4 separate regions of the Homo sapiens genome follow, and all the other regions are reported to be linked to region 3. Evidence: microRNA targets listed by miRTarBase, many of them from high-throughput screens and not tested one by one. Region 3 holds a microRNA gene; each other region holds the end of a gene's coding sequence. Distances are from middle to middle.

What was found. The annotated mature microRNA hsa-miR-215-5p reads AUGACCUAUGAAUUGACAGAC and lies in region 3 at 2,681-2,701, shown strand. An mRNA with a match to its seed (bases 2 to 7 or 8) in the 3' UTR can be bound and repressed. Matches are read on the target gene's strand: a 7mer-m8 pairs with bases 2 to 8, a 7mer-A1 pairs with bases 2 to 7 and ends in A, and an 8mer does both.
Region 1: the mRNA of PIF1 is a reported target of hsa-miR-215-5p. The part of its 3' UTR that is shown has no 7-base or 8-base seed match.
Region 2: miRTarBase lists PSRC1 as a target of hsa-miR-215-5p. The part of its 3' UTR that is shown has no 7-base or 8-base seed match.
Region 4: miRTarBase lists BCOR as a target of hsa-miR-215-5p. The part of its 3' UTR that is shown has no 7-base or 8-base seed match.

What each region holds. Positions count from the first base shown.
Region 1 is chr15:64,810,247-64,817,364 of GRCh38, reverse strand. It overlaps PIF1 (PIF1 5'-to-3' DNA helicase), which reads left to right. Exons shown (of 13, transcript NM_001286496.2): 12 at 600-791; 13 at 1,008-1,733. The coding sequence ends at 1,067. Among named protein-coding and RNA genes, the nearest start is that of PIF1, 12 kb to the left of the region's middle. RefSeq lists enhancers at 5,594-6,099, 6,100-6,607.
Region 2 is chr1:109,274,405-109,281,511 of GRCh38, reverse strand. PSRC1 (proline and serine rich coiled-coil 1) reads left to right here. Exons shown (of 8, transcript NM_001032291.3): 5 at 261-375; 6 at 466-735; 7 at 1,023-1,116; 8 at 1,356-1,956. The coding sequence ends at 1,359. It overlaps CELSR2 (cadherin EGF LAG seven-pass G-type receptor 2), which reads right to left. Exons shown (of 34, transcript NM_001408.3): 34 at 5,761-7,107. Among named protein-coding and RNA genes, the nearest start is that of PSRC1, 5.2 kb to the left of the region's middle. RefSeq lists enhancers at 3,607-3,666, 3,751-4,045, 3,338-4,087, 5,229-7,107 and cis regulatory regions at 6,544, 6,529-6,548.
Region 3 is chr1:220,113,499-220,120,616 of GRCh38, reverse strand. It overlaps MIR215 (microRNA 215), which reads left to right and starts at 2,655; the gene lies at 2,655-2,764. It overlaps IARS2 (isoleucyl-tRNA synthetase 2, mitochondrial), which reads right to left. Exons shown (of 23, transcript NM_018060.4): 12 at 6,143-6,303. MIR194-1 (microRNA 194-1) reads left to right here and starts at 2,376; the gene lies at 2,376-2,460. LOC124904515 (a long non-coding RNA gene) reads left to right here and starts at 1,504. Exons shown (of 2, transcript XR_007066883.1): 1 at 1,504-1,632; 2 at 2,734-2,875. RefSeq lists an enhancer at 5,775-5,944.
Region 4 is chrX:40,045,624-40,052,724 of GRCh38, reverse strand. BCOR (BCL6 corepressor) reads left to right here. Exons shown (of 15, transcript NM_001123385.2): 15 at 325-1,474. The coding sequence ends at 616. Among named protein-coding and RNA genes, the nearest start is that of LINC03053, 40 kb to the right of the region's middle.

The DNA.
Region 1 (7,118 bases), not on the chromosome of region 3:
CCATGTTGGCCAGGCTGGTCTCGAACTCAGGTCATCTGCCCGCCTCGGCCTCCCAAAGTGCCGAGATTATAGGCGTGAGCCACCACACCCAGCCCAGAATAAACTTTTCTTTAGTGAATTTCCAAGTCCACCTCCTCTCCCTTTCCTGGATACATTCACTTCCCCTCTGCCATCTCCTGCCCCACCATTTTCTAAGCCACCACTAGATACGTAAAATTGTATAAATTGTATACAACCACTGTATCAAGTATAAAGTATAGATATAATGAATAATCCTATTTTGCACAGAAAGAAACCAGGGCTCATGTGTCCCATGTCACACAGTTAGTGAGTGGCAGCCTGGATTCAGCTCCACGCCTGTCTGACCCAGAGCCTGAGTGCTTTCCTTTCACTCCATCCCTCAACTCTTACCTGGATCTGTCTCCCGGTCCCCCTCCTACTCAGACAGCCACCTGCTGTCATGCTCTCCCTCTGTCTAGAGACTCTCTGGACTGGACGAGGAGATCCAGGGGCAGTAGCAGGGCTGGTAAAGGGTCAGGCCTTTCGGGGCAAGGGACTTAAGGCTGAGCTGACTCCATCTCTGTCCCTGCATCCCCCAGGGCATGACCCTGGATTGTGTGGAGATTTCTCTGGGCCGTGTGTTTGCCAGTGGCCAGGCCTATGTGGCCCTTTCTCGGGCCCGCAGCCTGCAGGGCCTACGTGTGCTGGACTTTGACCCCATGGCGGTTCGCTGTGACCCCCGTGTGCTGCACTTCTATGCCACCCTGCGGCGGGGCAGGAGCCTCAGTCTGGTAAGAGGGAGTCATCCAGTGGTGGGCTGTGGCCACGGGCAGGGTGGGAGCTAGGACAGAGGGAGCGCCGGCCCAGTGGGACCTGGGGTGGGGGCAGAAAAGCCCTCTGCTGGCTCCTTTAGGGGTGAGGGCAAAAGGAAAGAGATGCTGGCCCCCAGGTTATGGTCCTGGGGAACAGCACAAACCCATGACTGGGCTTCTCTGGCTCTGATCCAGGAGTCCCCAGATGATGATGAGGCAGCCTCAGACCAGGAGAACATGGACCCAATCCTCTGAGCCTCACCCACAAAGAGAAGACAAAGGGTGGCCTGTGGCCTCCCCGTCCTCCTGCTCCCTAGTGGCCCAGGGCCCCAGGGAATAACTGGAGTAGGCAGGCAGTGTCCCCTTCTGTATTTTTTAGGGACTCTCAGCCTCCTGGCAGGGTTAAAGGGAGAGTACTTTAAACCCATATACCAGCTGTGCTTCAGTTTCTCTCACTTTGCCCTGGGTAAGCTGCTGTAGGGTCAGAAGTAACCCTTTCTGTGCCAGTTGAGAATGAGCCTGTGTGGTAGCTGATGTCAGAGGACAAAGCTCTCTGCAAGGGCTGGACACAGAGCTGCAGAGTCCTGAACATCCCTCCTTTCAGGCTGCAGAAGGGAGAGGCAATGAAGACAGGTGCTCCGGAAGCAGCATCAGGGCTCTTGGAGGGGACTGGTGGGGACTCAGGCTGGGTGCAGCCTCCAAACAGAGAACGGAACTTAGGTGTGTCTCTACAGCTAGGCCCAGCCTAGCCCAGCCCAGAACAAACACCCTTCAGAGCCTAACCAAAGAACATAAGCTGCAAAATGTGCACCCATATTTTAAGCTGCTTTTTCAGGGGATAAATAGTGTTTGGGGACATTGAAATGGATGTTCTCAGGTTGTATTTATTTCGGACAAATAAACTAGAGAATTGTGTAAAAACTGTGCCTCCTGCCTCCTCTCTCTCCCCCTCTCACTTGTGCATGTGCACACACGTGTTTGTTTAGGCCACAGTGGCTGAGATCACACCCTTCTGTGAGGTGGTCTTAGTATCACTGGTCGTTTGAAAAGCTGAGTTATCTGATGTTGGTGACTAGCAATAAAATGACATTGTCACCGGGCATGATGGCTCACGCCTGTAATCGCAGAACTTTGGGAGGCCGAGGCGGGTGGATCACCTGAGATCGGGAGTTCGAGACCAGCCTGACTAACATGGAGAAACCCCATCTCTAGTAAAAATACAAAATTAGCCAGGCATGGTGGTGCATGCCTGTAATCCCAGCTACTCAGGAGGCTGAGGCAGGAGAATCACTTGAACCCGGGAGGTGGGGAAGTGGAGGTTGCAGTGAGCTGAGATTGCGTCATTGCACTGCAGCCTAGGCAACAAGAGTGAAACTCTGTCTCAAAAAAAAAACAAAACAGAAATGACGTTGTCATTTGGTGAAGGTGAGTTACCATCACCCAATAGTCAGACATACTAGAGAATTCACGTGGTGGGAAACAAACAGGCCTGCTATATGTTGCTGCATTTGCTAGGAGCCTGGGTTGAAATTTCTCAGTTTGAGCCTTGATGGTCTCCCCAGCTTGAACCTGATCATCAACAAACTAACTTCAGTTTTTCAAAAAGCCTGATGGAAATTGCCCAGGGGTCCTCATAGGCTAGCTAAAACTAAGATTCTCTGCTTGTGAGTGAAAAGGTATCGATTCTGGGTGGTAAATATGGGTTATGATGGAGGCATGCATTGGCAGCTACAGGTGTCAGATTAATAAAAAAGGTGGCTGGGGCCGGGCGCAGTGGCTCACGCCTGTAATCCCCAGCACTTTGGGAGGCCAAGGCGGGCGGATCACGAGGTCAGGAGATGGAGACCATCCTGGCTAACACAGTGAAACCCCGTCTCTACTACAAATACAAAAAAATTAGCTGGGCATGGTGGTGGGCGCCCGTAGTCCCAGCTACTCTGGAAGCTGAGAATGGAGTGAACCCGGGAGGCGGAGCTTGCAGTGAGCTGAGATTGCACCACTGCACTCCAGCCTGGGTGACAGAGAGAGACTCTCTCTCAAAAAAAAAAAAAAAAAAAAAAAGATGGCCTGATAAGGTGGCTCACACTTGTAATCCCAGCATATTGGGAGGCCAAGGCGGGTGGATTGCTTGAGCCCAGGAGTTCGAGACCAGCCTGGGCAACATGATGAAGCCCTTGTCTCTACCAAAAAACAAAAATTTGCCGGGCACAGTGGTGTAGTCCCAGGAGGAACTCTGGAGGCTTGAGGTCAGGGGTTCAAGACCAGCCTGGCCAACATGGTGAAACCCCATGTCTACAAAAATTAGCTGGGCATGGTGGTGCCACCCTCCCTGACCTGGAGAAGTCAATTTTTTTTTTTTTTTTTTGAGACAGAGTCTCGCTCTGTTGCCAGGATGGAGTGCTGGAGTGCAGTGGCACGATCTCAGCTCACTGCAACCTCTGCCTCCCTGGTTCAAGCGATTCTCCTGCCTCAGCCTCCCAAAGAGCTGGGATTACAGGCACATGCCACCAAGTCTAGCTAATTTTTGTATTTTTAGTAGAGACAGGGTTTCACCATGTTGGCCAGGATGGTCTCGATCTCCTGACCTTGTTATCTGCCCACCTTGGCCTCCCAACTGCGCCCGGCTGAGTCAATTGTTTTTCTGTGACACAATTTCTTTTCTCTGTTCCAAACAGAAGACACTCTTAGGAGCAGAAAACAAGCCCACCAGAGTGACACCTCCTTCCCCTACCCCACAACAAGTGGGCAACCATGGGGGTCTTTAAATGTGGTGCCATTTATATGTCAGATGTTCCCAATTTCCCCATGCAACACATCCCTTCTCCCAGGTCCAGCTGTGAGCAGGTCACACTGAGGCCCTGCCCTCAGGGCAGTTACAATCTGGTTGCACTTTGCTGCTTTCACTCTTTCCTTCTACTGAACACACGGTCTGGGGACCACCCAGTTCAGCCCAGATAGCACTATCTCATATTCTCTAACAGCTCTGCAACCTTCGGTGGTCTTGGATGGAAAGAGGAGAAACTGACTCAGGATAATTGAAGCAGGAAAGGAAGATAACAACAGGCTATCTCAAAGAACTGATATGAAGCCCAGAAAACTAGGCTTGGAAACAAATAGGAATCAGAAAGGCTAGAGCCACTGGCAGGAGTAGAGCTGGGAGCAGTCAGGCCAGGAAGACCTTTGCAGCCGCCACCAGACACTGAGCACAGCTGCCAGGGGCAGGAGCTCTGCACTCTGCTACCTCCTCCCCCGATTCAGTTCAGACCTAAAGGCGGGTATGGGGCTGGGTGACCTTGGTCTCCCATGCAAGTCCTGTGGCTACTGGCAAGAGGCCAAATGTTTCATCAAGTTGCAAGAGGGCCTAGTGATTCTGTCCAGGATGACTCTCTAATCACCCCCGAAGGCCGGGTTGTTGGGGATGTCTGAGGGTCCGGTGATGCAGTTATCTTCTGCATCCTCACCTGGGACTCCTCTCTCTGACTCCATCCTCCACACATGGCTGAGGCATCCCACTCACCCAGCCCCTTCCCCTTCCGCAGGGGCTGATCACAGCTTTTCCCAGTCTCATATGCATCTGTCCTGCTATATAAAATGTCTTTCTCGTGAGACTACCTGGGCACCGGAAAGTCCTCTCCTTAGCAATCCCTTCTCATGGTGAAGATGCTCTCTGGAAGGCCCCCAGAGGAAGACAAGTGAGTTCCACATGGTGGGTGAGCTCCAGACATTCCTGACCCGCATGCCAGATCACAATAGTGGATTATTTTATGAGGTGTGCAAGAAACCTCACGGCTCTCTATTTTCTTGACATCTAATTTAACTTAACTTTGAGCCTGTATCCCGAGGGGTGTAGGGAAACCCTATCTCAGTCAGACAGGAGGCTCCTCAATCCCCAGGGTCAAATGAGAGTGGGGCTTATAGGAGCCGCTCTCATCTTCAGGGCCCGCCCTGATCACCATCCATAGGCAGTAACTCAGCCTGGGCCCTGGGATGGGGTGGGAGGCTTTCTGAGACTCTCCAGTACCTCATGCCAGGCCCTCTGGGCCCCTGCCACCTCCCTGTGGTGCTCCCAGAGGACCCTCTGACCACTTGCCCCTCCCCAGTCTATGGAACCCTCCTTCTCTCTGCCTCTCCTTCCCCCCAGCATCATCCTCTCAAGGAACTTTACCTGTGAAGCAAAGGCCAGGAAAGACTGTGTCCTCAGATAACTTCTGGATTTGAGGCAAAGAAGCACAGGGAGAGCCATATACGGTGGCTCGCACCTGTAATCCCGGCACTTTGGGAGGCTGAGGTGGGTGAATCACTTGAAATCAGGAGTTTGAGACCAGCCTGGGCAACAAGGTGAAACCCATCTCTACCAAAAATACAAAAAATTAACCAGGCATGGTGGTGCGTGTCTGTGGTCCCAGGAGGCTGAAGTGGGAGGATCACTTGAGCCCAGGGGGCAGAGGTTGCAGTGAGCCAAGATATCATGTCACTGAAACTCAGGCTGGGTAACAGAGTGAGACTCCAGCTCAAAACAAAACAAAGCAAAAATACACACACACACACACACACACACACACACACACACACACACACACACACACACCCAGCACATGGAAAGGGGCAGGCAGACAGCAAGGGAATGAACAAAGAAATAAGGAAGGTAGAGAGCTTACCCTTAGGCGACCAGGACTTGCTACCTGCCCAAGAAAGCTGCCCTCATATAGCAGGGTGTGGGTGGAAAAACTCCAACTGCTTTTTCCTGTTCTCTCAACAGCAACAACAATTAACACAGAGAGAAGACTTCTGTGACCAAATGCAGGGACTTCTTCCCATCAACAAACAAGCAATTCTGTAGCGGACACTAGCTGGGTGTCCTCTAATTTAATTCTGAAGCTATCTACCTGGAGGCAGCCTCAGATCCCACAGGTTGAGGACTCAGTCACCAAAACTGACAGCCCCTTCAGACAGTCACAAGTCTGGGCCTCTGGAACTTCTGACCGACTGGCTTCAAGTTGGGGTTCCCAAGACCCCCCTCTTTTGGTTTGATTAATTTCCTAAAGTGAGTTACAGAACTCAGGGAAACACATTTATCACTTTATTAGAAAAGGATACGTGGGGGAAGGGGTGTGGAGCTTCCCTCTGTGGGAAAGCCTTCCTCCACTAATATCCACTTGCTCAGCTACCCAGAAGCTCTTAGAACCTCTGCTTTGGGGCCTTTTATGGAGAATTCATTATGTAAGCATGATTGATTAACCATTGGTCATCAATTTAACTTTCAGCTCCCTCCCCTCCCCTGAGGTCATAGGGTGGGGCTGAAAGTCCCAACCCTCTAATCCTGCCCTGGTCTTTCTGGTGACCAGCCCCATCCTGAAGCTGCCTAGGGGCTGCCGGCCATCAGGCAATCATCAGCATACAAAAAGACACTTATCACTTTGGAGATTCCAAGGATTTTAGGAGTTGTATGCCAGGAAATGGGGATGAAGACCAAATGTATATTTCACATTCTTACAGGCTGTGCCACTGCTGATGGGGGCAGGGGGCACCCCTTCATTTCTGTTTCCTTCCTAGTTGGGGGATTTCGCACTCTCCTCTCCACTCTCCCACAGGAAGGCTGGAGTTGACTTTGCCAGGTGGACGAGTTGGAGAAAAGGTGTTTGGAGAGAGGAGCTACACAGTGCAAATGCACAGAGATGTGAACTATCCTTGATGGACCTATGGTCCACTTTAAAGGCTTTAATGCAAGAGAAGGTGGTATGTGGGGAGGCTGGCCTGGCCCTGAGGGGGCTGAGCCCAGAGTAGGGGGCTCAGCCCAGGGCGATCCAGTCCCCAGCTGGGAGGCAGGCAGGGGGCCAGGCAAGAGGGGCGGGGCGATGGCCCTCAGAAAGATAATCTTATGACCTGACTTGTCACAGTTCCTGCCACTTCTCAAAGACATTCACCCTTGGAGGGGGAGTCCCACTACCTGCTGTCCCTCCACTTGCCTCCTGTGCCTTATGCTCCCTCCTCAGTGTCCCCTGGGATCTGCATCTGAGGGTAGTGAGCAATTTACAGCTCAGTCTCCCTGCTAGGATGAAGCGGATCCCTTGATCCCGAGAGACACAGCTGAGATGTCTTTGTGTCCTCACAACCCTCAGCAGGATGACTTTTGAAAGCAGATGCTTCATTAAATGTTTCATAAGTGAACAAAGGCTTGGACAGTGACCTGAGAGGTAAGGAATGTTTACTCCCATTCTGCAAAGGAGGTAGCTGAGGCCTGGAGAGGTTCTTAGTGGCAGAACTGGAACTAGAATAGAACCCTGAGCCCTGTGCGCTCCTTCACCC
Region 2 (7,107 bases), 110 Mb from region 3:
AATTGTTGGAATTAAATGAGAACCATGAAAAAAGAGAACCAAAACTCTTACCACAGTGTCTGAGTATATGTCTATGATAAACTCAATAAATGGTATTGGCAATAGTGATGGTGATGGTGATGTGGTGATGTTAGCAGCTAACTTCTACCCTTCCTTACTGGGATGTAGACAACTCTCCACCTCTATTTCTTAATTCCTTAAGCCACAGAACAGATATTTTTTCCACTCTAGTCTTTTTTCTCTCTCTCTTTGTGTTTCAGGAGTCACCCACTTGCAATCTGTTCCCTGCATCCAAAAGCCCAGCATCTTCTCCTCTTACCCGATCGACTCCCCCAGTCCGGGGGAGAGCCGGGCCCAGTGGGAGAGCAGCAGCCAGTGAGGAGACCAGAGCAGCCAAGTTGCGGGTGAGTGGGAGTGGGGAGTTTGTGGGATTGACCCTGAAATTTCTCCACCCCTCTCCACCAGGCCCACCCACCCCCATCAGATCCGTCCTGGCCCCACAGCCTTCTACCAGCAACTCTCAACGCCTGCCCCGGCCGCAGGGAGCAGCTGCTAAATCTTCCAGTCAACTGCCCATTCCCTCGGCCATCCCCAGGCCTGCCAGCCGAATGCCACTCACCAGCCGGAGTGTGCCACCTGGCAGAGGTGCCCTACCTCCGGATTCTCTGTCAACTCGAAAAGGGCTTCCAAGACCAAGCACTGCAGGACACAGAGTGCGGGAAAGTGGACACAAGGGTAAGAGGTCAGGAGGAAGAATGCCCGCCCTTGCCCAGCGTGTCCTCACCCTCCCAGAGCTGTCAACAGTGACCACTTTTGCCATCCTTATTGCAATTCAATTGGAAGATGGGGAGACTGAGTTACAGAGAGGATATGGGGCTGGACAGAGTCTGAGTCTTAGTTTTCAAATACCTCATGGTCAGGGGGAGAGTACTAATCCCACACTCGCTCCCTTCATCCAGTATTTCTTTTCGAGGTCAGTTAAACTTGCTGCTAACTCATTTCTTTTGTTAACCCCCATGAAGTTCCTGTTTCCCAGCGACTAAATCTTCCTGTCATGGGTGCCACTCGCAGCAATCTGCAGCCCCCCAGGAAAGTGGCAGTCCCAGGACCTACCAGGTCAGTCTGGTCCTCCCTTGCCCATCCTGTCTCCCTACCCCGCCATCATCTGGGATTCCAAGCTGTTATGCACATCAGCCCTGAATTTTGTATGGAAAGATGGAGAGAGGAGGGGAGCCTGGGGCAGGGGAAGGGGGATCCCATTTCTTCCCACCCTGAGGAGCTTGAATTCTGCTGGGTGACAAATGGGCTTGAGGAAGAAGGGCATTTTAAAGCAGTTATTCCTTCTATTTCTTTAGGTAAAGAGATCAGGACAGCAAGCAAGACTTCAGTAGCAAACCACTACAGTCAGTACCTGGACTCGCCTCTACCCAGCAGACCCTGACTCCAGCAGATTCTGGCCCAGGGACAGGAGGAAGAGATGCCACCAGGGCTGGTCTCCCAGGAGTAGAGACCATGGGAAATGGGGTGGATTAGGATTGAGCTGGAGAAGACTTAAACTCTCTGGGTTGAAAGAAGATTAGGGGAAAAGAGGTCACCTTCCAGCAGTGAAATGAACAAATAGAAGATGAGAAGTACAGGCAAGTGGTTTGTCTTTATCCACCCCCACTGTTGTGGTCAGCCCCAGAGAATTTTATCTTCTTCCTTGGCATTGGTTCACTGGACATTTCCACGTGAGCGGCCTCCGTAGCTAACCTCCCTGCCCTCTGAGGAGCCATCTTCCTGAATCGCATTCTCTACTGGACTCTGGCCTGCTTGGAGAGGTGGCAGCAGGCACCTGGTCTTCAGAAATTGTTTCCTGTGAATTCTGTGACTCCTAATAGGCCAGTTTGTGATAAGCTTACTCTATGAGTCTTCATTTTTCTAAAATAAAGTGAATGTATTTTTATATTCTCTGTATATCTGGAAGTCGATCCTGCTCCTATTTCTTTCTCTTTTTTTAGACAGAATCTTGCTCTGTCACCCAGGCTGGAGTTTAATGGCGCGATCTGGGCTCACTGCAACTTCCACCTTCTGGGTTCAAGCAATTCTCCTTTCTCAGCCTCCCGAGTAGCTGAGATTACAGGCGCCTGCCACCCACGTCCGGCTAATTTTTTGTATTTCTAGTAGAGACGGGGTTTCACCATGTTGGCCAGGCTGGTCTCAAACTCCTAACCTCAGGTGATCCACCCGCCTCAGCCTCCCAAAGTGCTGGGATTACAGGTGTGAGCCACCGCACCCAGCCCCTGCTCCAATTTCTCTTTTTTTTTTTTTTTTTTTTTTTGAGACGGAGTTTTGTTCTTGGTGCCCAGGCTGGAGCACAATGGTGCGATCTCAGCTCACTGCAATCTCTGTCTCCCGGGTTCAAGGGATTCTCCTGCCTCAGCCGCCCCGAGTAGCTGGGATTACAGGCATGCACCACCACATCTGGCTCATTTTGTATTTTTACTAGAGATGGGGTTTCTCCATGTTGGTCAGGTTGGTCTTGAACTCTCAACCTCACGTGATCCGCCCGCCTCGGCCTCCCAAAGTGCTGGGATTACAGGTGTGAGCCACCGCACCCAGCCCCCTGCTCCAATTTCTAACAAATTTGGAGTAAATCTCTAATTCCAGGCAGGGAGCCAGGATGGGCCTCCTAGGCAGGGGCCTGAATAGGCCCTAGGGCCTTGAGATTCCAGCTTATCAGGCTGTGACTGCTCCCCTTGTTGGCATTAGACAAGGACAGGCTGCCTTTCCCCAGGTCTCAGGTATCATTGGAAGGTCCAGATGAAAGTTAAGTGTAGCTTAATTCACAGTATGTGAGGCTATTAAGCTAGGATCTAGGTAGATTCTTATTTATATCCTAAACTTGAATGTCCTTTACTGGCAAAATAATGGAGCCTCCTAGAAACGCACCAGCTTCTTGTTTGCTCTCCCTGTGAGACGTGAAGGCCCTTTGGTGGTGTTCATCTTCCCTGATCACCTCAGCCAGAGCTGCTGGAACACCTAGTCAGGCTCCAACTAACATCACTGGGGTTGTCTGTGCTCTCCTCATCTCCCCTGTTAGACTTGGGGGTGAGCGTCAGGATCCGGAAACCTCTGCAGTACCCTAGTGTTGTGACCTGTGTGTAGCAGAGCATTTAGTTTATTTATTCAGAAGATATTCGAGTGCAAGATGGTGTTTGTTGAAGGAATAACAAAGACACGTTTAACAGATTTGGTGTAGGGCCTCCCTTTTTTTGCAGCCTTTAACTCTAGTAATCAGAACCAATTCAATTCCTTCTGAGTTTTGAGGAAACTTCCCTCCCTGAAGGTCAGGCCATGACTTGAGAAAAGCAGCAGGTAAGTGGGCAAAGAGAAGTGGGACTGCCAGCTGGTGCCCCCACCCATGCCTATTTGGCCATAAATGCCTGACTTAGGCACCAAAGTGTCCTTGCCCTGTCCCTGGAGCCAGAGGCCCATCACTGCTTTCCCCTTTTTGTGGCTGATTCCAAGGTTCACCTGGCACATTCACCTACTTCAGTGACAATGCCTAGATATGCACCTTTCCCTGAATTCTGCAGCAACTCCCGCAGCCTCTGGGATTCCAGGAATCGGTGGGAGGGAAGGGGTATGCAGACAGACACGGAGTATTCAGCTCTGGAGAAATTTGGCGTAAGGCAAGAAACCTCAGGTGTGCTTCCCAGCTGCGCCCTGCACTGGTGTCTAGTGAGCAGGGCCTGTTGGTGGCTCCTGGGCCAATAGAAGCACTGGAAGGTCAGCAGGCTTAGGTACACACCTGGGTGAGGCCAGAAGGTGACATGTTTGTGTGGAGCCATGTCCAGGGTGGGTCCTTAGAGGCAAAACAAGCTGCAGACCCATGTGTTGTTGCCACCTGGCGGCTGGAGAGGGCATGGCACATCCTGTTCGCCCTCTTGGTCAGCCTTGAGTTTTGTCCCCACCCCACCTCCTCCCACTCTAAACCTGCTTCAGCAGCACTTTCAGTAAGCAGTGCCAGTCAGGGAGGAGGCCCTCCTGCCATGGCTGCCCTTCTTGTTCAGCCACCTGCCTGTCTCCTTCCCTTTGGGCCTGGCTTTCTACTTTTTCTCTCTGTGCACTCTTCCATTGCACCCAGTAGCAACAACACAGAAAGCCAGTGTTTACTGGCCTCTTACTATGTACTATGAACTCTTCCAAGCACTCTACATGTGTTAACTCACTTAATCCTCATAAAAGCTCAATTAGGTGGATGCTTTTATCATCATCCTCATTTTGTGGGCAGAGAAACTTAAGGCTCAGAAAGATTAAGTCATTCAGTCTGGTTCTAGGGTTTGTGTCCTTTTTTTTTTTTTTTTGAGACAAGGTCTGGCTCTATTACCCAGGCTGGAGTGCAGTGGTGCGATCTTGGCTCACTGCAGCCTCTACTTCCTGGGTTTGAGCCATCCTCCCACCTCAGCCTCCCTAGTAGCTGGGACTACAGGCATGCACCACCACAGCTGGCTTTTTTGTATTTTTTGTAGATATGGGTTTCACCATGTTGGCCAGGCTGGTCTCTTAACTCCTGGCCTCAAGTGATCCACATGCCTTGGCCTCCCAAAGTATTGGGATTACAGGCGTGAACCACTGCCCAGCTAGGGTTTGTGTTCTTAATCATCACCCTATATTGTCCCCAGGTTAACTCCCTTTCTAGTTTTTTTGTTTGTTTTGAGATGGAGCCTCGCTCTGTCACCCAGGCTGGAGTGCAGTGGCACGATCTCAGCTCACTGCAATCTCCACCTCCCAGGTTCAAGTGATTCTCCTGTCTCAGCCCCTGGAGTAGCTGCGATTACAGGCATGTACCACCGCACCCAGCTAATTTTTTTGTATTTTTAGTAGAGACAGAGTTTCACCATGTTGCCCAGGCTAGTCTCAAACTCCTGATCTCAGGTGATCTGTCCACCTCGGCCTCCCAAAGTGCTGGGATTACAGGCATGAGCCACCGCACCCAGCTGCCTTTCTAGTTTATTGAATGGAACTTCGACAAACACAAAACTTGGAACTAGGCCGGATGCGGTAGCTCATATCTGTGACCCCAGTTTGGGAGGCCAAGGCGGGAGGATCACTTGAGCCTAGGAATTCAAGACCAGCCTGATCAACATAGTGAGACCCCGCCTCTATTAAATTTAAAAAGCATATATACTTTTAAATATATATCATATATATACACAAAAACAAAACTTAGGCTGAGAAGTAATGTTGCAAAGCACACACTTGGCTTCAGTATGAGTAGCTGCTTCATTTTCCAATGGGAAAAAAAAAACAAAAAACAACCCTGAGCAGTATAGTTAGGAGGCACTGAGTCACTGACCACCATTCAATTCCAACCAGCCTCTCAATGCAGCCCTCCCTGCTTCTTGAATTCTGCCCCAGAAAACTCATCCCTGTCTAGGACTCAGCCCTGAGGGGCTGGGCTGGAAGGCTGCCTGCCCCGTGCAGCCTCTCCCACCGTAGAAGTCCTTTCCGTCCTGGTGAAAAGGACACCTTCCTGCCCGCCCACCATGTCTTCCTTGGAAATGCCAGGAAATGGGCTCTGTGCTGATCCAGCTATTTGGGAGCAGTGTCATGGACATGGGCAGAGGGACAGGCTTATCAGCCAGTGGTGTCTGAGTCTCCCGACCTCCCGGTGGGGCCTTCTGGGCCCTGCCGGCTCTTCTGTTTTCCAGAGACCAGACCTTCCTCCCTGTGGGAGGACAGGGTACCACACAGAAGCGGACAGTGACAGTGCTGTACCCGCACAGAACTAGTTTATTCAGTAGTATGGGGCATGAAAAAACAACAACAACAAAACGCTACCCTATTTACAGCAACAACCAAACTGTACAATCTGATGGTTAGTACCAAGTTAGCATCCAGCATCTTTGTATTTTTTTTAAATCAAGTCATCAGTAGTAAAAACCAGTTAAATTTTTAACCCTTTGCAGGAATTGCTGAGGGGAGAAGACGGGGGAGAATCCACGGCAGAAAAGCCAGAGGCTGGCCTCACAAATGAGAAACAGGAGCCTTTCTTTCCTGCCCACAGCCTCTTTTTCTAGCCACCTGCTCCAGAAGGAAAGTCAGTGACAAGTCTGGAATACATGCTTGGAGTAAATGGTGACTCAGATGAAAAGCAGTCGGCAAAACTGAGGAGAGGGGAGGAGAGGTGGGGAGATGATGGCCTGGGGCAAGGGGAAGGGCGTCAAGCCCCCAAGCCAGGGCTGCTGGGAACACCCAGCCTGTGATGGCCATATCAGACCCCCGGGACTGGACACGAACCCATCCCAACACAAAAAGCAAATAAATAAAACAAATATATTAACTCTCTCTTCACAGGGAGCTGGGGTGGAGTCGGGGAGAAAGAGGAACAGGACCTGGTCCTTTGAAGAAGAGAGCCAATTCCAAGAAGGGGTTAAAAATAGAACATGTCTCAGAGGCCACAGCAGGTTAGACAAAGTAGCATTTGTCTGATTTTGGGGGGTGGGGTGGGTGAGTGGACACCAGAACCCAGACTTGAAACCTGTGCTTGATTGAGCACCCTCAGGGCAGCCGAGCCAGCACTGTGTTTACTCTTCCTCCCCCACCCACATCACAGCAAAGAAGCGCAACTTAACACATGACTGGCCTGCCCGGGGCGCGGGGCGGGCACGAAAAATGAAGCACTTTTGGGTCAGCAACTGAGCAAACACCTGGGCTGCCGCGCACGGCCAGAGTCCAGGAAAAGGAGAGGGGCTGGGGCTGCCCGACCCCCGCCTGGGGGCACAGGCTCCCCTGAAAATGTGTTCATGCAGCATTTGGGGGTCCAGGGGCGCTGAGTCCTTCTGCCCCCTCACCGGACAGGGCTTTTCCAGTTCCTGGGAGAGGCAGTGCGGGCAGGACGAGGCACACCCTTTGCCCTGGCCCCTCACCGTTCTGAGGCCTGCCCGGGTGCAGCCTGAAGGGTGTGAAGCCCTGGCTGCGTGTGGCTTTGTCCTTTCCTTTTGGTGATGGCGTATGAGGGGCAGGCCCCCCAGGAGTCCCTCTCCTCCCAGAGGCACAGCAGATGGGAAACTGAGGAGAGGCTGGGAAGCATCCTGGGAGGTCCTATCCTCTTTGGGAAGG
Region 3 (7,118 bases):
ATCATTTGAGCTAAGGACTTCAAGACCAGCCTGGGCAACATGGCAAAACCCGGTCTCTACAAAAATACAAAAATTACCCAGGTATGGTGGTGCGTGACTATAGTCTCAGCTACTTGGGGGGTGCTGAGGCAGGAGGATCACTTGAACCCAGGAGGCAGAAGATGCAGTGAGCCGAGATTGCACCACTGCACTCCAGCCTGGCAACAGAGTGAGACTCCATCTCAAAAAAAAAAAAGGCCGGGCGCGGTGGTTCACGCCTATAATCCCAGCACTCTGGGAGGCCGAGGCGGGCGGATCACCTGAGGTGGGGAGTTCGAGACCAGCCTGACCTACATGAAGAAACCCCATCTCTACTAAATATACAAAAATCAGCCAGGCATAGTGGCGCAAGCCTGTAATCCCAGCTACTTGGGAGGCTGAAGAAGGAGAATCGCTTGAAGCTGGGAGGCAGAGGTTGCAGTTAGCCAAGATCCCACCATTGCACTCCAGCCTGGGGAACAAGAGCAAGACTCCAACTCAAAAAAAAAAAAAAAAGTGTGACAGAGAGCTTTGAAAACAAAAATTGCAATAAAAATAAACAGACATATAACCCACAAACTTGAGCTAGGTATAATGATGATAAAAACAAAGATAAACTTAATGTTCAAACAAAATCTAAAAAGATAATTTGAAAAAAGTATATAAAGTTAACTGTGAACAAGTGCTCAAAAGACACTCATTATAGAGATGTGACAAACATCTAACAAAATCCAAACACTGGATAAGTTATGTTCATTTGATTTTCATACACAAGGAACTAGGCAACCATTAAGAGCTAAGCTGACATTTTTAACAGGTACATATTCATTCTTCTATAACTAATTAAATTACATCTTCTTTTGTATATCATTATGTTCCTTTATAAACAACTGTATTGGACATCTTATATACATATCCTCACACAAGAGGTATTAGTCCTATTTCCTTTGGGTAAATACTTAGAAGTGGAATTTTTTTATAATGAAACCAAGATAATACTTAAAAGATTTCTTAAATAATTTTCTGTTTCCTAAAAAAATTTTTAAACAATTTTCTAACTATTTCCTTGTGATATTTAATATTCTTCAGAAAAAAATGCAGGAAAATTCCTAATTTGTCTGAAATTTAAGAATTCTACCTTCATTTCTTTAACATTGTATACTTAACACAAACTCATAGTTAACCTATAACCCAAAGATCAGTATAAACGACTGCTGATAAAAGTGGGTGAAACCACTTACCAGTATGTAATCTATATGCTTCCATCTTAATGCTTTACTTCATAAAGCAATAAATCCATCATAAAACCTTGTACTTTACTCAAAGGCCTTATCTCAACACATGCATTACGTGTCCCTTCTTAGGTTTCAATCAGTGAAAATCCACTAGGTAGCATGAGCAACTATGACATCAGCCAATCATTCTGAACTTCGATATCAACCGGAATGAGGCTTATTTAGCGTGTTATGGACATTAAGCAGCATTAAGATTACTAAAGCAACAAAGAAACGACTGCTGTCATCCCACTGTCTTCTGTGTTTTGCCTTTATAAGCAAAAATATTGAAGATTATTAAGACAACTTTTCTTCTGTAACTTACTGGAAGAAGAATGAGGTAAGAGGCTAAATGTTTCACATTTGTTTACTAAATTTAATTCTAGAACAATGTGAAATTTGGAAGGGGAAATTCTATTTTTAGTTTAATCCTAGATTTATGTTTTAAAGCTGACAGAAAACCATTTTGAAGAAATTTTTCTTTATTTAATGAACATAAATTTTTTGAACAAAAGGTTTATTATTGTTAACTGAGAAAAAATTTGAGGTAGCTAAAGTTAACACTCAAATTATATTGGAAATTCCTTGGCTATTTTTACTAAATTTCTCATAATTTCCAGAAGTTAGGGGCTAAGTTTCACTATGTTAACTATAGCATTAATAGCATGAAAGTGATTATAACTGTTTGAAATGATGAAAGAAATTTAACCAACTTCTTTTCCTTCCCAGGTAGCCAGTGTTTCTACATTTTATCTTTTTTATGCTAAAAATTATTTCTTCTGTTTTTATTGACTAGTAACAGATTTCAACCCAAATTCTAATGGCATTATCTCACAGATTCAAAAAATGACCAATGACAGTAAAGTCAGAAATGGAATTATTTCTTGATAAAATACAAATATGATCTAAAATGCAAATGACACTATTAATTCAAATCAAAATAAAACATCAGCGTTTCAAATCTACCAGTCCCTAAACTTATTTAGAACATGAATAAATCGAGACTTTCTTCTGTGAAACAAGTATACTTAGAGATATCGTACAGCTCCCATGATGAGCAAAAGGAATCTCCTTATATGTTTAATGGTGTTATCAAGTGTAACAGCAACTCCATGTGGACTGTGTACCAATTTCCAGTGGAGATGCTGTTACTTTTGATGGTTACCAACTTGCTACAATATAAAGGTATAATAAAGAAAGACAGAAAATTGTGGTCACTTGGACTCTCATTTGATTCCAGCAGAAAAAAAGATTTTCAGCCTGTTTTATAAAATTAACAAATGATTAAGAATTAATATCAATTTTCTTAAATTCAAGTTTTGTAACACCAAAAAGATCCAATAATGGAAGAGGATTAAAGTCATCATTCAGAAATGGTATACAGGAAAATGACCTATGAATTGACAGACAATATAGCTGAGTTTGTCTGTCATTTCTTTAGGCCAATATTCTGTATGACTGTGCTACTTCAATATCAGAAATCGACTAACACCACGCAACCAACGCAATGGCAGGTACACAGAAGATAATCTGTAACACTACCATGTAAATGTATTGAGTAAATAAAACATAAATATACCTAATGAAAACTTGTGTTTTTCTGACAAAGCTCATATTTATTTAACCTAACTTACTGACCAGTCAACCTATGTACCATTTAATTATCAGGATGTATCAATTAAACCAGTTTGCTATATTTACTAATACATACATATGATCCACCTCAGAGTCCAGAGGGCTATTCCACCAAGGAATCCCCACCCACCTCAATCACTTCAGTGAAATTCCCTAGACATCTTGCTCTCTAAATAGTGAAAAGAAGAGTAGCCGGGCACAGTGGCTCACGCCTGTAATCCCAGCACTTTGGGAGGCTGAGGCGGGCGGATCACTTGAGGTCGGGAGTTTGAGACCAGCCTGACCAACATGGAGAAACCCCGTCTCTACTAAAAAATATATATATATAAAATTAGCCGGGCGTGGTGGCACATGCCTCTAATCCCAACTACTCAGGAGGCTGAGGCAGGAGAATCACTTGAACCTGGGAGGCGGAGATTGCAGTGAGCTGAGATCGTGCCACTACACTCCAGCCTAGGAAACAAGAGTGAAACTCCATCTCAAAAAAAAAAAAAAAAAAAAAAAAGAAGAGGAGACAATGACATGGCTTATAAAACTTTCCAAAAAAAAAAAAAACTTTCCAGTGTGAAATTTTAAACAAATGTTTGTGGAAACTCGTCTCAGGTATAATCACTTTAATTCTTTTTCTTTTAAACTAAGTCTGAGGCTGGGCATGGTAGCTCATGCCTGTAATCTCAGCACTCTGGGAGGCAGAGGTGGATGGATCCTTTGTGGCCAGGAGTTCGAGACCAGCCTCGTCAACGTGGCAAGAGCCCATCTCTACTAAAAATACAAGAATTAGCCAAGTCAGTGGCGCGTGCCTGTAGTCCCAGCTACTCAGGAGGCTGAGGAGGGAGAATCACTTGAACCTGGGAGGTGGAGGTTGTAGTGAGCCAAGATCACATCACTGCACTCCAGCCTGGGTGACAGAGTGAGACTGTATCAAAAATAAAATAAAATAATCTGAACTGGACAGAATTTACATTAATTCTTAATGTAAGTATTAAGATATTAGTAGTTTACATCTGACCAAGCTCTGTAAGAACACCACAGCAACAATATTTAGATTATTCCTAAAGTCTTACCTCAGATCCAACTTATAATAATATTGAAATAGCTTTCCAATGACTTTCCAGTCTCTAGCCTCTACTTTCTTTTCCTAAAACATACTCTTACTCCTCAAGTCTACTTAAAAGTTTAAACTTCTTAATAGCATAATTTAGAAAAAATTCCATTCACCAAATTAAAAAAAATTGCTCAAAGAAAATGAAAATCTGGAATGTGTTCCTAAAAGGAAGAATTAACATTCCCCTCTCCACATCTGTGAAAAACAGCAACAACACTCAAAGCCTCCCTAATATTACTAGAAGATAAACTAGCTAGACTATTATCTCATTAAAAACAGGGGCCATGTCAGTCTTGTTCACTGTAGCAACTAGCAGTTCCTAGCACTGACACGTACTAAGTGCTTGACAATGTGTTCTGTTTTGTTTCGTTCTGAAGAGACAGTGTCTTGCTCTGTCATCCAGGCTGGAGTGCATTGGCATGATCATAGCTCACTATAACCTCAAACTCCTGGACTTGAGCGATCCTCTCGCCTTAGCCTCCCAAGTCGCTGGGACTACAGGCCCACACTACCACACCAGCTAATTTTTAAATTTTTCTGTAGAGATGGGGTCTCACTGTAATCTTGAACAGCTGGCTTCAAGCAATCCTGCCGCCTTGGCCTCCCAAAGTGCTGGGATTACAGGCATGAGCCACTGTGCCCACATAACAATGTTTCTTAAGTGAATACATGAATAGCTCATCATCTATGGAATACTGTGCTTTACACCAAGTAGTTTGCATTTATTATTTAGTATTCATAACAGTCTACCTGCAACCATTGCTTTTCCTATTTTATAGAGGAGCCAGAGGCTAAGTAAATTCCTCAGTCTCACACACAGTGAATGGCAAAGCCTGGGTTCAAATTCAGTTGCCATTCTCCAAAGCTCACAGATTTCCAAGCAACTTCTCTTTCGAAAAGCACAAAAGGGAGCTGTTCGGGATAAAAGAATTATTCTAAGACACAATTATGATAGTGGCTGTAAAACTTAACAAATTTACTATAAATCACTTATAATAAATGAATTTTTCTTTTTTAATTTTTTTGAGATAGAGTCTCACTCTGTCACCCAGGCTGGAGTCCAGTGGCACGATCTTGGCTCACTGCAACCTCTGCCTCCCAGGTTCAAGCAGTTCTCTGCCTGAGCCTTCGGAGTAGCTGAGATTACAGGCCCGCGCCACCATGCCTGGCTAATTTTTGTATTTTCGGTAGAGATGGAGTTTCACCATCTTGGCCAGGCTGGTCTTGAACTCCTGACCTCATGATACACCAGCCTCGGCCTCCCAAAGGGCTGGGATTACAGGCGTGAGCCACCGCACCTGGCCATGAATTTTATAGTATGTAAAGTATGCTTTAATAAAGCTTAAGAATGAGGCTGATCTATGTGTAGTGATTTGGAATAAATCATAACACATAAAGTGAAAAAAATCTAGGCACAGAGCAGAAGATAGAGATACTCTCTTTTGTATAAACATATGTATGTGCTGACAGAAGAATTCATTTTTTCTGGAAAGATTCAGAAACAGCTGTAAACAATGACTGCCTCAAAAAAAGGTTCTGGATACCTGGAGTAGGAAAAAGCCTACTTTTCAGTGTACAAGCTTTTCTACTATGAATTGTTCACTATGTCCATCTATTACCTTTCCAACTCAAAAAAAAAAAAAGGGAAAAACTGGGAATATAATCATCAGTGTAATCATGTGCATTTAACTACAATTTCTTAAATTTTAAGTATCTACACAATTACATAATCCCATTTCCACTGAAAAGGAAAGCAGACTCAGAATGTGAGAGTGATTCTCTTCATTCCTTTAGAAAAAATACATTTCAGGCTCCCCTGCTAAACACTGTCCATCTTTGGATCCATGATACCTTAATACAGCCCAATAAATTCTCATAGAAAAAAAGTCAGAGACTTTACTTCTAAGTATCAATATTTAAGAAAATCTAGTTAATATTTTAACTGTATGATAGAATTGTTTTGAACTTATATTTTAGTCCCCCAAAAGACTATTTTAGCATATTTTATTTAACATATATAAACGGTTCTTAATCATCCACATTATTTTTCAATTTTTGAAGAAAAAATATTTCACTTTAAAACACTAAAAAATTTTAGAAAGCATTCTACCTGTTGATCAAGTATTCATCCTTGGTCTTATGATGAAACACAGGAATTGGAACACCCCAAACTCTTTGCCTTGATATACACCAATATGGCCGCCTGTCCATCATTTCAACCATGCCATTCAGTGCTGATCCAGGAATAAATTTCACCTTTTTTAACAATTCCTGCAATTAATTCATAAATCAAGTCTTGTGAGAGAAAGCAGAACAAGTATTCTAGAACAGTCAATTTTCCAAATGCATTTGTTTCTTTTGGATGTTTGTAGCCATTCACATACCTCCCTTACCCTCCCCTCAAAAAAACAACTAAAGAACTAAAAGATTTCAGAGCAAATAAGGCAAAGTAAAAATGGAGCCGCGAAGAACTTAATAAATAATATCGGGAGCAGTGATAATATCAGGAGCATTGTTGCATTTTTTAACAATGTTACAAAAGATTTCATACCAATTTCTAATTTACACCAACCCTAGATCAAAACTGGTAATAAAAGCTTTCATAGAACTATTATACTTCACTAAACTATAGTTAAAATCAATTCAAACTTGATTTCCACCATTTTTTAAAATGCTTAAAAAATAAATTACTATCGTAGACTGCCAAAAAAAGATTGCGATATACCTAATTTTACATAATATAGTTTACAACACAGAAAACACTTTCTCAAAATAAGCCCAAGTATGTGGTTCAAACCTGTAATCCCAGCATTTTGGTAGGCTGAGGTGGGAGGATCACTTGAGCCCAAGAGTTCAAGGTTGCAGTGAGCTATGAGCATGGCAGTGCACTCCAACCTGGGCGACAGAGCAAGAGCCTGTCTCTAAAATAAATCTCTCTCTCTCTCTATATATATATATCTATCGACAAATGGCTAACAGTTACTTCCTCTCAAGAAAGCTCCCTTCCTCCATTCCCAAAATAAGGTTGAAAACTGCTACCATTTGATTTAATTTGTCAACTAGCAAAAGATTAACTGTATAGCAAA
Region 4 (7,101 bases), not on the chromosome of region 3:
GGCATGGTGGCGGGCCCCTGTAGTCCCAGCTACTCGGGAGGCTGAGGCGGGAGAATGGCGTGAACCTGGGAGGTGGAACTTGCAGTGAGCTGAGATCGCGCCACTGCACTCCAGCCTGGGCGACAGAGCGAGATTCCGTCTCCAAAAAAAAAAAAAAAAAAAAAAAAAATGGTGATCAGAGAGTAGGTATGGTGAGAAATGAGGGGTGGGAGCAGAATGAAAGGACATAGAGGCTGGTCCACTTGGGTTGGTAGTTAATATTAATAGTTGGGCGCACTTTTCATTTTACTGGAAACTCAAAGCATTTTCCTTTCTGTTTTGTAGGCCACGAAACTGGCTACTGCTTTCGGATGTCCTTAAGAAATTGAAAATGTCCTCCCGCATATTTCGCTGCAATTTTCCAAACGTGGAAATTGTCACCATTGCAGAGGCAGAATTTTATCGGCAGGTTTCTGCAAGTCTCTTGTTCTCTTGCTCCAAAGACCTGGAAGCCTTCAACCCTGAAAGTAAGGAGCTGTTAGATCTGGTGGAATTCACGAACGAAATTCAGACTCTGCTGGGCTCCTCTGTAGAGTGGCTCCACCCCAGTGATCTGGCCTCAGACAACTACTGGTGAGCAAGCTGGACCCACCATGTACAGTGTGTTATAGTGTTAATCCTTGTGCATATGTGTCATAATACAACTATTTCTGTAAAGAAAGGACACTATTACATATGAAAATATCTCTTCTTTATATAAGAGAAATTACTCCAGTCAGAAGGACTTAGAAACATGTTTTTTTCCTTTTAAACTTTTAAGTCAGTTTTTATGAAGTTGTTATAATGTTTCTTTACTTTTCAATGCACACATGCTTTGGGATACGTTTGTTTTTACTTGGAACATTTGTTTCTTTTCTTTTTTAAGGAGAAAAAAAAATGAGTAAAAGGAGCTCCACACTTTGACTTAATTTCATACAAAGCTCTGATGACAGGCCATGACTGTAGAGTGGTCAGAACTGTGTGGTTGGTTTGAGGGAGCGAATTCGGGGAAGGCACTTGGTGATATAACTTTGTTTTGTTTACAGAGTACCTGCTCGGGCCAGGTAAATGCTATTGGATGTAATCCAGTAGTGTGTAATATAAATTCAAACCATATCCACACACAACAACTAATTGTATGAAACTTTTATATCCTAATTTAAAAGCTGTGAAATTAGTTTTCACGCATCAAACCGGATTGTTTATATGTTTAAACATTTTATGCTCTTATTTAAAGAAGACTTTGAGCTATTTTTTTCTGTACCCTGTAAAATATTGAAAACTAACATAATATGTTGAGGTTGCTTGGAAATGTACATAAAACTAAAATTTTCTGAATCGTGTGTTTATGTTTGAAATCTGTGTTTTAACTTTGTAAGTAAATTCTCTGCCTTTGTATTTATATTTTACAAAAATTTTCTTAAAAGGCAATAAAACTGTTGAGGAAAGGAGAAAATTGAAGTACCTTGTGTCCCATGTATTCCTAAAGCATTATTGTTGTCCCTGATTCTTCTTAAATGGTGCTGGTGATGTATTCCCTATAGATAACTTTAGAGCAATTTATAGTCTCTGGAAACCAAAGCAGACTGGAGGATTTTGGAGGAGTTATACTCAGAATATAATTTGGAGTCCTATTCTGAAAGCCCAATTCTTGGACATATTTCCTGTCTCTTAGAACCTTCTCTTTCCTGTCTCCTTTGATGCTTATGGAGGCTTTTGCACTGCCTTTGGCCTTGACCTATTTCAGTCCCACGTCATGGCCAACTCTCTAGGAGTGTTTTTTCTGAAGCTAGGCATTTGTTATGTCACTTCTGCAGCCCTTCTGTTGCATGGCCTGAGAGTCAAGGCCTGTAGAGCCAGCCTTTCCTCTGTTCTTGACTTTTCCCAGCAGTATCTGCACTGGGCACTATCAGTTGGCCCTTGATTTCCATCTCACTTGCTTTTGTGCCTGTCCTTCACTATAGAGGCTAGAAAGCTGAAAACTACTTGACTCCCTTGCAGCTAGCTTTCTGAGTGCATATTCTGTTTGGAGGGCAGCATGAGGTAGGGGCACCTTCCTACTATAGTGGCTGCGGATAGGAAAATTTGAAGAGAATGCCAGCCAGTTGGAATGACTGACCAGCATTCCAGTGTCTGGTTTTCAGCTTGGTGGGTGATGAGATACAGTAGTGGTTGTGGCAGTGGCAGCTTTCTAATTCTTGGATGACAGCCTCAGCAGATTGTTCGTGAACCCTGTGGATCCAGAGTTGTCCCTGACTCCTGTTCCCCCAGCCCTTCCAAAGACCTTATTCATCTGGGTCCTTGTGTCAAATCCATTTGTGCACCGAATGCCCTCAGTGCTTTCTGATCCTGCATGGAACACTAGGACTGCGAAAGCAGAGGAAAGAGGCTGTGGGGACACTGTATTTGTCAGGCCAGCAAACACTGTGGAAGAAAAAAAAGGAAAAGTGAGGCATTGTTGGGAATGAAGAAATTCCATGTGAGGAATGCAAGAGCCCTTTTTGGGGGAAGGTTGGCTACGAATGAAGTTTGGAGTGTATCTTGAAGACAAAAGGCAGCCTACCATCTTATTTACTAATTTTTCTGATATTAGAAAATGTATACCTTATTTAAAAAACCCAATCATGTCAGAAATAGACACGTTTCCTATTATCCCCTCCCCTCCCCCACCCATGTTAACCACTATTAACAGTTTACTTAGTTTTTGTTTTACAGGAAGTCCCCTCAAATAGCTAGGGGGAGTGTTGAAGGGAAAAAAACAGACGACAAGACCAGTAAAACAGACCTGTAGAAATGATTTAAGCAGAAGAGGACTGGTGAAGCTGAACTACCATCAAAGCTACGAGAGATCCTACACACCCAGATTTAAAAAATAATAAAAACTTAAGGGCATCCGGCTCTTTGTATTGGGGTTGGAGGCAAAGGGGGAGCCCAAGGCCAACTGAGATTTTTATCTTGGATGAAGGTCATTCTGTTAATTAAGCTAGGAAAACAGGTGAGAGCCACAAGGTTAGGGTGTGCAGAAGAAGCAGCTTGGTGCAGGAGACATTTAAGGCTGTGGTTCATGCAGTTGGAGGAGCTAGTAGTCAGAACAGTTAGTGCAAGAACTGTCAGGGTGGTTGGAAACATGGACGTAGAACTGACTGGGGGTATAGATGAGATCCCCATGGCTGAGAAAGGTTTGGATGTAGAGCAATGCCCCACCCCTGCTCAGGAACTCCCCATGGGTAATAGAGCTCACCATGAACATAGAGTGGGCCACAGGTATGGGCCAGATCACACTCCACAGGGAGAGGGACGCGTCACCAGAAGGTAGGGGAGCTTATTGTGTGTTGAGAGGAACTCAGCATGGGTGTTCAAGTGCTCACCACAGGTTTGGAGCAATCATGATCTAAGGTCACCTCGGGCGTTGAAGAGCTCTCCACAGGCAAAGATGTTAACACAGGTGTAAGTGAGATCCCACTGCAGGTAGAGTGCCCATTCCAGTAGAACTCCTCCTGGGGGGAAGGGAGTGGGTGTAGAAGACACCACAGGCATAGATGAGATCGTATTGGCCGTATAGAAACACCATGGGTTTAGAAGAGCTCACCAGAGGTACAGAGCAGACCTTTATAGGCCCTCATTTGGGTGTCCAGGAACCCACCAGCAACATAGAAGAGTTTCCATGAAGGTCAACATGAGTGCAGTGGAGCTCACCACGGGTAGACAGCAGAAGTGGTTCATTCCAATTCTGAAGGTGTCCCTTAGGATCAGGACATGCTTTCCTTTGCCCTGTCCTCCCTCTTCCTGGCTAGAATGTGGCTGCTCTAGCTATAGCTGTCACAACCACCTTGGACCATGAAGTATCGAAGTCGAGCACTGCTGGACAAGTTTGAAGGAGCATGGGTCTTTGAGAATCTCCTGGAACCAAGCCACCATACCAGCCCTACCCTACCTGCCATTTACGTTAATTGATGTAATAGCAAAACACCCAAATCTCCATCAGTTGGGCACTGGTCGAGTTAACAATGGTACACCCACACAGTGGAATACTATGCAACTGGAAAAAGAATTGAGGAATAGTTCCCTAACTTGCTTTAGAGTGGTCTTCCAATTATTATTATTTTATTTTATTATTTATTATTATTATTTTTTGAGACAGTCTTGCTCTGTTGCCCAGACTTGGAGTGCAGTGGTACAACCTCTGCTCACTGCAACCTCTGCCCACTGCAACCTCTGCCTCCTGGGTTCAGGCAATTCTCCTGCCTCAGCCTCCCAAGTAGCTGGAATTATAGGCACCCGCCACCATGCCCAGCTAATTTTTATGTTTTTAGTAGAGACAGGGTTTTACCATGTTGGCCAGGCTAGTCCTGAACTCCTGGTCTCAGGTGATCCACCCAGCCTCAGCCTCCCAAAGTGCCAGGATTACAGGCGTGAGCTACCATGCCTGGCCTATTTATTTTTTTGAGACAGGGTCTCGTCTCGCTCTTGCCCAAGCTGGAGTGCAGTGGTACAATCATGGCTCACCACCGCCTCAACTCCCCAGGCTCAAGCAATCCTCCTGCCTCACCCTCCTGAATAGCTGGGACTACAGACAAGCACCACCATTCTGGGGTAATTATTTTGTTTTTTTGGAGAGATGGGAGACTTGCTGTGTTGGCCAGGCTGTTCTCCTGAGCTGAAGCGATCCACCCACCTTGGCCTCCCAAAGTGCTGGGATTACAGGAGTGAGCCACCACACCTGGCCTGAAAACATTTTTATAGTTGTTTTCAGTAATCTTATCTTTGGTAGTGTCAGTATTGTTATTCTGAGTCTGTCCTGTTTGTGTCGTGAGATAAAACAAAAGGAAATGTTGGTATTGAGAACTGGGACTTCAACATGAGAGAAAGGAGATGAAAATATAGAATTGGCAAGGTTAGATAAATTATCCAGCCCTGAACATGAATTGTAAGTATCACTATGAACTCATGATGTATTAATATTTTATCTTAGGAAAGTTTGTTTCCTAGCTCTGTCCTCTCAAAAAGCCTGGAAACAATGACTGATAGAAATGAGCACCATAGCTCCCAGCCTATGGTTTCTAAATACCTTTCCTCATTAAAAACAACTGAGCTTTATTTGAGAAATGGTTGATTCCAGTTTGGGGCAGGGAAGAATTGGAAGGGAGTATAGATATATACAAGAAGCCAGTGGGGTTGTGTCAAAAAAATTAAGCCTTCCAAAGTGCTGGGATTATAGGCCATGAGCCACAGTGCCCGGCCAAAAGTAAGTTTTATAACATATGTTGTTTAACTCCGTATATCCGAAGTATTACCATTTTGACATGCAATCAATACAGAAATCATTAACGAGACACTTTTGTTTTTTATACCAAGACTTTAGAAACTCCAATGTGTATTTTACATTTGCAGCACTTTTCAGCTTGAACTGGCCACATTGCCAAGTGCTCAGTAGCCACATGTGGCTACTGGCTACCACACTGGACAATGTAGGTCTAAGTCTACTTACCAGTTTACAAGAAATACAAGGGGCAGAGAAACACGTTAGGACACTATGGGTATGCATTCAGCAAAAGCCAAACTGTGAGACTCTATAAGACACATGGGGCTGGGCACGGTGGCTCAGGCCTGTAATCCCAGCACTTTGGGAGGCTGAGGTGGGTGGATCACCTGAGGTCAGGAGTTCAAGACCAGCCTGATCAACATGGTGAAACCCCGTCTCTATTAAAAATACAAAAAAATAAAAATAAAATTAGCCAGGCATGGTGGCGGGCGCCTGTAATCTCAGCTACTCGGGAGGCTGAGGCAGGAGAATTGCTTGAACCAGGGAAGTGGAGGTTGCAGTGAGCCGAGATCACACCACTGTACTCCAGCCTGGGCAACAAGAGCAAAAACCCATCTCAAAAAAAAAAAGACACATGGCTCAGTTTATTTAACAAATAACTTGCAAGGGGAAAAAAAACAGAGGAGGAAACCTCTAGACTAAAAGAGACAAGAGAAATACCAGCAAATGTAAAGCATGGATCTGTGAGTCTGATTTGAACAAACTATAAAAAAGAAAAAAAAATTGCAAAATTTGTAAAAACCAGGGAAATAGGAATGCTGAACATATATATATATATATATACATATATATATATATATATATATACATATATATATATATATATATATATACATATATATATATATATTTATATATATAATTTTAAAATGTGGTGTTGCTCTGTCACGGAGACTGGAGTGCAGTTGTGCAATCACAGCTCACTGCAGCCTCTACTGCCTGGTTTCCAGCAATTCCCCCACCTAAGCCTCCCAAGTAGCTGGGACCACAGGCGTGCACCACCACAACCAACTAATTTTTTTTATTTGTAGAGATAGGGTCTCTTTGTGTTGGCCAGGCTCATCTTGAACTCCTGGGCTCAAGCAATCCTCCCGCCTTGGCCTGGGATTACAGACGTGAGCCACTAAGCCTGGCCCAGAACTTTTTTTTTTTTTATTCCAAATCTTTTGGCAATGTGTGCTGAAATCTTTATGTATATGATATCTGGGATTTGCCTCAAAATCATCCCAGTGGGAGGAGAAGATGGAGATGTAGATGAAACAAGCCCCATGAGTAGGTAATTATTTTTATTTATTTTTTTTTTTTTTGAGACGGAGTCTCTCTGTCACCCAGGCTGGAGTGCAGTGGCGCAATCTTGGCTCACTGCAAGCTCCGCCTCCTGGGTTCACGCCATTCTCCTGCCTCAGCCTCCCAAGTAGCTGGGACTACAGGTGCCTGCCACCACACTCGGCTAATTTTTTGTATTTATAGTAGAGGTGGGGTTTCACCGCATTAGCCAGGATGGTCCCGATCTCCTGACCTTGTGATCTGCCTGCCTTGGCCTCCCAAAGTGCTGGGATTACAGACGTGAGCCACCGCACCTGGCCGGGCCATCAGTAGGTAATTTTTGAAGCAGGAAATGGGTACATGGAGGTCTCTGAATTGTGCACTTCTCTCTATTTTTGTGTGTGTTTGAAATTTTCTACAATAAGTTATTTTTTGAAAGAGAGCATCTCAGCCTGGGCAACCTGGGGAGACCCCATCTCTATAAAAACTTTAAA